Linked DNA regions of Homo sapiens. The protein of the gene in region 2 purifies or fractionates together with the protein of the main gene of each other region. This does not show direct contact. Each region holds a gene or a part of one and is shown on either strand. Other genes may lie near its edges.

Region 1 (3,786 bases), on a different chromosome or scaffold from region 2:
TGGGAGGCCAAGGAGGGCAGATCACTTGAGACAGGAGTTCGAGACCAGCCTGCCCAACATGGTTAAACCCCCTCTCTACCAAAAATACAAAAATTAGCCAGGCATGGTGGCGCATGCCTGTAGTCCCAGTTACTCAGGAGGCTGAGGCAGGAGAATCACTTGAACTGGAAGGCTGGGGTTGTGGTAAGCCAAGATTGCACCACTGCACTCCAGCCTGGCCAACAGAGCGAGACTCAGTCTCAAAAAAAAAAGAAATAGGCAGATAAAGTAAACAGATGTGATATGTGATAAGGCAAATAAAGAGTAATCCTCTCGGCACCCTGTTAGTTTCTGTCCGAGCACGTATGACAATCTGTAATTATGTTGTTCATTTGACTACTTACTTTATGACTATAAGCTTCAGAAAGGCATAATCATATCTGTCTTCATGTTTAATAATGTATCCCAAGCACTTACCATAGTGTCTAGCATGTAGTTCAATATTGATTTGTTAAGTGAATGAATACCTATTTCACCCTCTTTAATTTAGGGTGAGTAAAGTGAAATCTTAATGGCTGTCAAAGGTCAAAGAAGAGTCAGTAGGAAAGTAGGAATTTGAATGACAGACTCTTAAGTTTTAGTCCAAAATATTATACCACATTCAAAATATTGATCTCAAAGTACAGTCATTGAATAGCTTTGTGTTTTCAAAGCTTAAAGTAGCTGGTACCTAAAAAACAGACTTGAGAATCTTTCAAAACTTTACTTCTACTAAAAAGTTTTAAAACACTTAAAAAGTTTAAGAGAAGTTGTCCAAGAAAAAAAGATATTTTAAATTCCCACTAATAAATAGAGACGATTTAGTCCATTGTTTCTTTTTAATGCATGCTAAAACAGTGAGACCTTAAAGAACTCTTTGTAAGGAACCACGATATCTGAATATTCTAGATATTTATTGGCAGCTATCTGGCTCTCTATAATGATATGTTCTTTGGCTGTATCATTTAGTCAGAGTATTATTTCACATTAACTGACTGATAAGTAACCTGCAAATGTAAATATCCCCCAAGAACCAAATCTATATTTTTTAATGTTTTACATACCATATCCTTTTAAATGGGACTTAAAGATAGATTAAAAACTAATATGTAAGATCTACTCTGGACCAGCTACCATGTTATGTGGAGTTATCAATTCATTTAATACATCTTGGTTTACAAATTTTAAAAGTTAATCTCAGAGTTTTAGAAATGTGCCAAGATCTCATAACTTGTCCATGCCCCTTCCTCTTGAAATAATGCCTTGGAGCAAGCTTGATATATCACATATAGTTATGAAGATGGGAAGAACAATAAACTTTTCCTTTAAAATAAAAATTTTAAAGTTAATAATCATAACTACGAAAACTCCTCCCTCTAAGCTTTATAAATAGGCTTACTTTTATTACAATATGTAAAGACTTGATTCATTTTTAAAATCTTTTGAAAGGCAACCCCTCCCCACATGTGTAGCCAGTCCTTCTAATGTAGTAACTCTCTTCTTGCTTTACATTTATTTTCTTTAGCAATATTAGAGAATAAAGTAATTCCCAGTGTGACTACAGCCAACCAAAGAAAAAACTAGTCCAAAAGAATGGTCACTGAAAAGTTTAGGTTTCAAGCGTGAATACCATATACCAAATTCAGAAAAGCATCTAAATCTACTTCCTTAGAACAGTGTATTTTACTGTAGGGTCTCATACAGATTTCAAAGAATATAATCTGGATGACCAGTATGAGTAATTACTGAAATTTGACCATCATTTAAACATAAACAACATATTGAGCCACTAATGTTTAGAATTCTTTAACTAGACTTCACAATGAAGACATATCCATCATACAGTGTCTGCCTCTTTAAGAGAATATTACGTTATCATGTTTTATTATGTACTCTTATTTTTCCAAATACATGTCTTTATTTCTATTCATGCTTATCATCTAAAACTATATCTATCTGTAAACTTTTTTAGTTATGAAGGCACTTTCAATTTTCCTCTGGCTCATTACTTCCTTACCAATTTTATTTAGTAGTGCTACCATTCTACCTTAGTCTTCGAGTTGCTTTTCAGTCCTATATCCACATATGGGGTATTTGGGACATACATCAGGATATGTATCATCCACTCTTACCTCCTCAGTTTTAATTACTTTTCATTTGAATTTAAGGGTTAACCCCCTGAGATTGTCCTACTTCTTCAAGCAATTGTGAACTCTCTTCATCACACAAATCTCTTCCTCAGATTTAGTCAAAATTTCTCCATCCCACCTTGCCTTCATCCATGGTCAAGTTTACTCTCAAATGGCTATTGTGTTCCTGATGCTATTTTGTGTCTTTTCCTTCATATTAACATCCTTCCTAATCTCCGTCTAAGACTTTTTTTCCAGTACTAAGTCCAGCAAGTCTTTCCTAAATTAAAAAATCCCAACTCCCCAAAATTACAATCTAATGTTGTTTCAGCGCCTTCGTGTGTGCTTAATTTATTCGACTAGTCCAAAAGAGAGAAGACCTTAATCAGGGAAGAGCCATGTTCTCCCTTGAGACCAGTTTTCCCTATATTCTATACCTAGGCACACAGTCTCTATTGTAGATTAATTAATGACCATATTTTTCAGTGCATATATTTTTCATTGCACACATTTACATATGAAGCTTCCTTTTCCACTAAGAGAGTACTGAATACAGGAAATAAGGATTGTTGAACTAGGTCACTGGTTTTAGGGATTTACAATCCATTAGTTGGTCAATGAATCAATTAATGGGTCACGATCAATGTTTTTTAAATGAAATGTAATATAAAAATACATAAGTGTCCTGCACATAGTTAAGAGTACACAGTTCATGAAACTTTCATTTCTGATGCACACAGACATATATACATACACCCCTACTACTACATGGGAACTAAGTCATAATGCAATGTGTAATTCCTATTGTGTATTACAGTCAAAAAAGTATGAAAGCCATGGAACATGAGGATACCTAAGATCCCCTCTAAATCTATATAATTCAAATTCTAATTTTAATTATTTAAAAAAATTTAAATTTGAACATAACTTAAAGATATCAAAACAATGAGCAAAATCATCTTTTCTTAATAAAATGTCACCACTGAACTCTAACCTTAAAATTATAGAACCATAAAGCTTTCAGAGTAGGAAAAAAAATCAGGGATCATCTAATCCAAGTTCACCACTTCAATACATTAAGAGGACAACCGTGGCTCAGAGAAGTGAAATAATTTCATTTCATTCATTTAATAAACATTTGCTGAGCACCTATTGTGTACCAGGTTCCAGGAATGGGTGTGTGGATAAAGGAAAGATGTCTTCAAAGAGTAGAAACAGGAAAGTAAACATTTGCACAGTCTAAAGTGGAAACAGGCAAGTAAACATTTGCAATTATTACTGAAATCAAGGTCATTTACAAGGTGTTAGATGAACAGAAAGCAACTAACTCAATCTGGGTTGAGTGACAGAGAAAATGTTTCTAAAGAGGTGATACTTCTCAGTCTTAAAACCAAAAAGGGGTTAGCCAGGTAGAAGAGGAAGAGTAATATGTACAAAGGCACCATACTGATATACAATAAAGGATTACACATTTAAGAAACTGCAAGTCAAGTCTGTATGGATGGAATATAGTACTCAGGCTGAGGAGAAGCTGCAGCAGAATAACTAGCATTTAATATTCAAACCACTCTCTGAGGTAGGCACTATTAATATCCCCCCATTGTGTAGATGAGAAAACTGAGGCACACAAAGGTGAAGT
Region 2 (3,786 bases):
AGTGGAAAATATAAATCTTGACTTCTACATTGCACTATATTCAAAAGCAATTTCAGGTAATTTAAGATCTAAATGTGCAAGTTAAAACAAGAAAGCTTCCAGAACTACAGCAACCACTAAACAGATGTGGTTATTTAAGCTTAAATTAATTAAAATTAGTAACATTAAAAATTGAGTAGCCCAGTTTCACTAGCCACATTTCAAGTGCTCAGTAGCTACACATTCCATATATGCAGATAGAGAAAATTTATAGCATGTCAGAAAGTTCTATTGGATAGCAATGTTATAGAAGAAAACACAGGAATATATCTTCATGACTTGAAGCAGGATATGTTTTCTTTAAAAGGATAGAAAGAATACTAAATAAAAAAGACAACTTTGGCTGGGCGTGGTGGTTTAGGCCTCTAATCCCAGCACTTTAGGAGGCCAAGGCGGGCAGATCACTTAAGGTCAGGAGTTCGAGACCAGCCTGGCCAACATGGTGAAACCCTGTCTCTACTAAAAGTATAAAAATTAGCCGGGTGTGGTGGTGGGTGCCTGTAATCCCCGCTACTCGGGAGGCTGAGGTGGGAGAATCGCTTGAACCCGGGAGGCAGAGATTGCAGTGAGCCAAGATTGTACCACTTTACTCCAGCCTGGGCAACAGAATGAGAATCTGTCTCAAAAAAAAAAAAAAAAGATAATATTGATAAATTGGAGCTCATTAATTGCTAATCAAAAGACACCATTAAGCAGTATGGAATATGTGTAAATACTATACTACTATGAAATAATCTCGTTTATATTTTTAAGTGAAAAAACTCAAAGTGGGGAAGAATGTGTATTGTATGGAATAATAGATACTAGACTTCTCTAAATATATTTTGTTTTATAAGTTTATTTTGGAGCCATGTAAATATTTCACATAATTATAAAAGAAAATTAAAATTTAAAAAGCAAGCCCTAAATTTGAAAGCGACTTGAAAAAAGCCTAGCTCTGTATCTAGCTGGTGGCTTAACTACACAGAGAGGAACTTTTCCAAGATACTTTAAAACACAATAATTTGACTGTACATGCCTACTGGGCATTTGTAAGGATGTGCCTTATAAATGAAAAGAATGACAAAAACTTAAACTGCTACAGTATCATATTATTTCTGTAGTGCTGAAATTGTTTTCTAAGTCCATTGTTTGAGTCCCGTGGGATAACAAATGAGTAATTCTGTTGACGTTAATGAAAACTGGGATTTGACGTATGGGAGAAATAGGAATGTAAGATTGATGAAGTTAAGTAAAAACCTCGGAGTGCTGAACTTTATTAGATTAGTATAAACATGTGATGTATTTTATCTTTTAAAAAATAGACATCCCTTAGCTCAGTAGCTGAAGATACCTAGAAACAGCAACTGACCCAGCAGCAATAAGCACACCTGTTGTTGAGATTATATCTCTAAGTATCATCTTTCACTAAAAATAAGTGAAAGCTCTTTGAAAAATGGCTGATTCTGGGAAAGGAAATGTACAAGATAATCTGAACATCTTGTAATACCAGAAATCAAGGAAGCATTCAAAAGACTATTAAGACTCACATGAAAAGGATTCAGGGTGTTATCACTGGGGAAAAGTGGGTGACAAGCACATGGGATCTCTCTATACTAGTTTTGTAACTTTATGTGAATCCATAATTATTCCAAAATAAAAGGTTTAAAACAAGATACACAAACACACTCACAAAGACTCAGGAGCAAAGCTGAACAGTTCCCAACTTGCCAAAGTTAGCATAATTTGATCATTAAAAAGATAATTGACATGGATTGGGCCATATCAAATATGTTTAAGTCAATGAGTTCATAATGACACCTAAAAAAGGCCTTGGTCCTTTTTGTAAGATGGCCAGGAATCAATTCATTGTTTTGAATACTGCTAAACAAAGGGGAAGAATCAAACATTTATCCTGCCTTTCCTGTGTGAACTGTACCTCAGGCTAATCAAATAGTTGAAGACCCATTACAGAAATGTTACAATTAATTAAAAAAAAGAAGAAATGATAGAATTAGAACGGTAGCTCTCGAAGTGTGGTCTATGGACCCTTTGGGTGTTTATGAGGTGAATATAATTTTCAAAATAATGTTAAAACATTATTTGCATTTTTCACTATATTTACACTTGCATTGATAATGCAAAAGCATTGGTGGGTAAAGCTGGCCACCATAGAACCACAGAAGGAGTCAAAGCAGTGGCTCCACACTGTACTGGTGGTTATTACATTCATGATTGGACATTTGCAGTAAGAAAAATACCAGTAAGAATGCCCTTGATGAAGCACTGATTATTATTAATTTTGATAAATCTCCACAATTAAGTACAAATCTTTTAAACATTTTGTGTGAGGAAATAGAAATGAAAAGTATGTTTAGAGTACTTCTGTTGCACACTGAAATATAAACATATAAGGAAGGAAATAAATTAATAAAGTATGAAAATTAATAAAATAGAAAGCAAACATACAACAAAGCGAACCCAAAACACCAAAAGTTAGCCTTGGAAAGACTAATATCATTAATAAACTACTTCCAAGTCTAGTCAAGAAAAATGAGAGGTGACACTAACACCAGGATTGAAAAGGGAAACATCACTACAGATCCTGCAGATGTGAAAAAAAGTCACAACAGGACATTATAAACAACTTTATGCCAAAATATTCAAAAGTACAGATAAAACTAACATATATCTGAAAAAATTAAAGGTACAGGAATGAAATAGGAGCAATAAAAATACAAAGAAATTTGATCTCAATTAAAATTTTCCTACAAAGAAAACTGTAGGTACAGAGAGCTTCACTAGTGAATTCTACCAAATATTTAAGAAAGCTGTATCACCAATCTCAGTAAATGTGTCCGAGGAATAGGAAAAAAAATGTGAGAGAGACAGAGAGAGAGACAGGATTTCCAACTTGTTTAACAGGGCCAGCCTAACCTAATAAGAAAAGAAAAAGACAAATCAACCTAAAAACCCACTATTAAGACTTCTTAATTGGTTTTTATTTTATATTAACATTATTTTGAGTTTAAACAAAACAGCTGTAGTCTTTGCTTAACAATTCTAAAGAATAACCATAATGTGTTTGAATTCAGAGTATATTTTGAAGGTATGTCATTAGAGTGCCCCTATGAACACAGAATATCTGTAGATGGTAACCAGATGGCTCTAGGAACAGCCAAGGAATTTGGGATGGGTTAGAAATAAAGTGTTTATCTTTCTCTACAGCACAGGAGAATACGAGATTGCATATTTATTTCCAGATTCCAAAACAAGTTCCAAATGAATATATAATAACCTTTTGTGTTTATAGTCCTTTCTTTTTCATAAATGCAATATAACAGACATGTAATTTATTTATATCCTGAACCATTATCTTATGCCATCAATTAAAATTGGGAACAAAATGAGTGGCTATCTACCTTTATTATTTAGCTTTGTTTCTTAAGAACAACCTTTACCAACAAATTCCTTACTTCCCATAATACTTTAGTCAGGATCCTGGACTGTAATCCATATTCACTTGAAGTTCTGCCAAGTGTTAATATTTCCGATATTCATATGACATGCATTTGAGCATTGTAAAAACCTTTCAGCAATTTAGTCCACCTTCATTCCAACCTAGCTAAGTTAATTTAGTTGTTGAAATATTATTGTTTCCCTCTAACTGAAAATATTGAAGACAACAAAAGACAATAAGTCATTAACATTATGAGACACATTGTCAATACTTTCCCACTTATATGTTTCCAAGGTATTGCTTTTCTC
Region 3 (3,786 bases), on a different chromosome or scaffold from region 2:
ACTTTGGAAGGCCGAGGTGAGAGGATCGCTTGAGCCCAAGTGGTTGAGGCTACAGTGAGCTATGATCCTGCCACCGCACTCCAGCCTGGGCAACAGAGTGAAATCCTATCTCAATCAGTCAATCAATCAATCAATCAATGTATAATTTCCCTAATCTGTAAGAATTCATGTGACTCAATGATTTAAAAAAAAAAAAAAAAAAAACCTAACCTCTTACTAGGAGTGAAGAAAACCTAGGAGAACCAGTGTACAAACAGTGTCTGTGTCATGAACAGATTCTTGACCTCATTCACAGGAAGAGAAATGCACATTTCGAGGAGTTTCCACATCTCAGTCCTTGACACTTGCTATGGCCTGCTCCCTGTGGCTGGAAGGGCCATCTCTCCTCTAGGATGGAAGTTCTCCAACTGCTCCTGCTCAGCCCATTGCAGTCCTGTCTCCCTGGCCTATCGTCTCCAACTTCAAATCCTCATGGGCTCAGTTGTGCCCCTCCTCAGTATTTACAACTTCTTCCAGGTGGACACACTCAAGACAGCGGCTTCAAGCATCACCTATGTGCTAGGGTCCCCAAATGTGTACTGCTAGCCCTGCCACACACTGTCCCCTCAGAGGCCAAGTTACCCTGAGCAGTTGAATTTGGTGCCTCGATTGTCCTCATTCCCCACACGTCATCCATCCACACCCCAAATATGTCTTGAGTCCTTCCTATTCCCGTCCTGCTTCCTGGTCTTGACCCTGGACCACAGCAATAGGAGCATTTACAGATGAGTTTGTGTCTGCTTCACGCTGGGTTCTTCCTTCTCCATGCTCTGCTCCTGGCAAGCCCACATGTGCAATGTGAGGGTTTGCCCTCAGGCAAGCCTTTCCTGTGGCCCTTAGTCATGGAAAAGAAATGCAACTTTGTAAATGGATTTTAAAAGCCACTGCTTGCCACACTTGCCTGCCCTGGAAACCTTCATGCAGCAATCAATTCCTAACTCATACACATGGGGGAAAAGGGGGAAGAAGTGCGAGGCGAACACAACAGTCAAGCACACTTCAGGCCAGGTTCCTGCTGCATCTCTGGGGGCTCAAATGACCTTACGGGACACCACATAACATCCCAGGGGAGCGCCTCACACTCAAGGCCCTCCACCTGCTTCCTGTCTTGCTCCGGTTCAGTCCAGGAGTGGGCACTCAAGATGTACATCCGATGCTGGTGGCCCTCTGCTGAAAACTTCTCAGGGACATCCATCACTCATGAAATAAAATCCAGCTTCATCTGTGTGGGATCTGACCCCACGTGTCTCTCTAACTTCCTAACCCTCCACTCCCCACAGCAGCCCCCTGCTGTTGCTCCATCTTCTCCAACTCTTGCCCCCTGGCAATTGTTCCAGTGGAACCCTCCTAGGAGCACTCTTCCTGGCTCTCTGAACCTCTGGCCCTGCCCTCCTCCGGATGTCAGCCCAAAGTCACCATTGCCTGGAGGCCTCACCAGCCCCATCTCTGTCCCACTCAATTCTCTCTCAAGGTTCCTATCAGTTTCTTTGGCTGTCTCATTCATTTGTGTGTCTTGATACCATCCTAGCAGGAAGGCTCCAGAAGGACAGAGCCTTGAACTGGAGGCACCCAATGCCTCTCTGTGGAATAAAGAACAAGGAAGTGCAAAGGAAACAGACTGGAAGCTCATGGAGACAAGGGGAGGAGGGGCAAGGATTAGAGACCCATCTTGAACATACCAGGTGGACACAATCCCTCTGAGGGGCTGGACCTCTTTTGTTGTGGGGCCGCTCTCTGCTGGGGAGCTAGGTCTTGTTGGGTGATCAGAGCAGACTCAGCTGAGACCTGTGGGGACAAAGCAGGGATGGGCATGAGTGGCTTCCAGACCTCACCCCTCCCAGGATCCACTCACATTCTCTTGAGCCCAGGCACCCAAGCTAAACAGAACCCTCATCTTTCTTGCAGCTCTCACCTCTCAAACATCCTTTAGTGTTTGTTTGTCCCTTCATATTTCAGGGAAGGCCAAGTAACATACACCTGCAAAACTCTTCTAAACATGTTCATTCCAGAAAATGTGGGCAAGGAAAGTTTTTACAAGAATACACAGACCACACGTGATATTCTCAGCTAAAGATAGCATCCATTAATATTTTGTCTCATTTAGTTCCACTATTTTTCCATAGGTATGCCTATTCTCTCTTTCTCTCTTTCTCTTATTCTCTCTCACACAGACATACACACAGACACACATTTTTATAAATGGGGGTTATAATATAGCAAACTTAAAAAATTGGGATACAGGATCAAACATTAAATAGTGAACTTCTGATTTAAAAGGTGCCTGACATATAGACCAGAGAGCCCAGAAATGAACTTGCACGTACAACCATGTATTGCTCAACATTGTTCTGAGCAAAGGGTCATTAGGCAATTGTGTTGTGTGAACATCAGAAGAGTGTACTTACACAAACCTAGATGGTGTATCCTATGACACACCTGGCCTATATGGTATAGCCTTTTGCTCCTAGGCTACAAACCTGTGTAGCATGTTACATAATTGCATGGAGCCACCATCACATATGCAGTCTGTTGTTGACAGAAATGTTGTTATGTGGTGCATGACTGTATATGATCAAGTAATTTTTGGCAAAGGTATAAAGACCATTTAATTGAGAGGACAATCTTTTTAAAAATGGTCTTGGGAAATCTAGACATTGACTCATCACAAAACAATGACCTCGGACCTTTAACTTACACGTATACAAAAATTAACTCAAAATGGATCCAAAATCTAACATAAAAGTGAAAACCCTAAAACTTAGAAGAAAACATAGGAACTATTCTTCCTGACCTTGGATTTGGCAATGATTTCTTGAATGTGATCCCCAAAACACAAGCAATATAGGAAAAAAAGTAGATAAATTGCACTATGTAAAAATTAAAAACTTTTGTGCATCCAATGATGATCAACAGTGAAGGGGCAACCCACAGGAAGAGGAAAACATTTGCTAGTTGTATATCTGATAAAAGGTTAATATCTAAAATATATAAAAAACTCCAACTCAACAACAACAACAAAAAGCCAACAATGTGATTAAGAAATGAACAAAGAACTTGAATGGTAACAAGCTCCTGAATAGCCAATGTGTCAAAGAGGAAATCAAAAGGGAATTTTAAGAGTATATTAGAAAATGAAATGGAAACATAACATAACCAAATGTATGGGATGCAGCAAAAGCAGTTTTAAGAGGAAATGGCAATAAACGCCTACATCAAAAAAGAAGAAAGATCTCAAATACAAGACTTAATGTTGTACCTCAAGGAAATAGAAGAAAAGATACACTAAGCCCACAGTTAGCAGAACAAAAGAAATAATAAAAATCAGAGCAAAAATAAATAGAGACTGAAAAAAATACAAAAGATTATCAAAATTCTGTTAGTTTTTTGAAAAAATAAATGAAATCACTAAACTTTAACTAGACTAACTAAGAAAAAAGAAAGAAGACAAATAAATTAAATCAAAAATGAATGAGGAGGCCAGGTGCAGTGGCTCATGCCTATAATCCCAGCATTTTGGGAGGCCGAGACGGATGGATCACTTGAGGCCAGGAGTTGGAGACCAGCCTGGCCAACATGGCAAAACCTCGTCCCTAATAAAATACAAAAAAAAAAAAAAAAAAAAAAAGCCAGGCATGGAGGTGTGCATCTGTAATCCCAGCTACTTGGGTGGCTGGGGCACAAAAATCACTTGAACCTGGGAGGTGAAAGTGGCAGTAAGCTGAGATTGTCACACTGCACTCCAGCCTG

Evidence for each region.
Region 1: the proteins of PCDHAC1 (region 2) and ACVR2A purify together in Homo sapiens (affinity purification with mass spectrometry; one large-scale study listed by BioGRID and IntAct). This does not show direct contact.
Region 3: the proteins of PCDHAC1 (region 2) and TNFRSF10B purify together in Homo sapiens (affinity purification with mass spectrometry; one large-scale study listed by BioGRID and IntAct). This does not show direct contact.

What each region holds. Positions count from the first base shown.
Region 1 is NC_000002.12:147,851,355-147,855,140, reverse strand, and holds part of ACVR2A (activin receptor type-2A isoform 1 precursor), read right to left. Parts: intron 1-3,786. UniProt on the Homo sapiens protein: On ligand binding, forms a receptor complex consisting of two type II and two type I transmembrane serine/threonine kinases.
Region 2 is NC_000005.10:140,932,787-140,936,572, reverse strand, and holds part of PCDHAC1 (protocadherin alpha-C1 isoform 1 precursor), read right to left. Parts: intron 1-3,786. UniProt on the Homo sapiens protein: Potential calcium-dependent cell-adhesion protein. May be involved in the establishment and maintenance of specific neuronal connections in the brain.
Region 3 is NC_000008.11:23,041,420-23,045,205, forward strand, and holds part of TNFRSF10B (tumor necrosis factor receptor superfamily member 10B isoform 1 precursor), read right to left. Parts: intron 1,825-3,786; coding exon 1,719-1,824; intron 1-1,718. UniProt on the Homo sapiens protein: Receptor for the cytotoxic ligand TNFSF10/TRAIL. The adapter molecule FADD recruits caspase-8 to the activated receptor.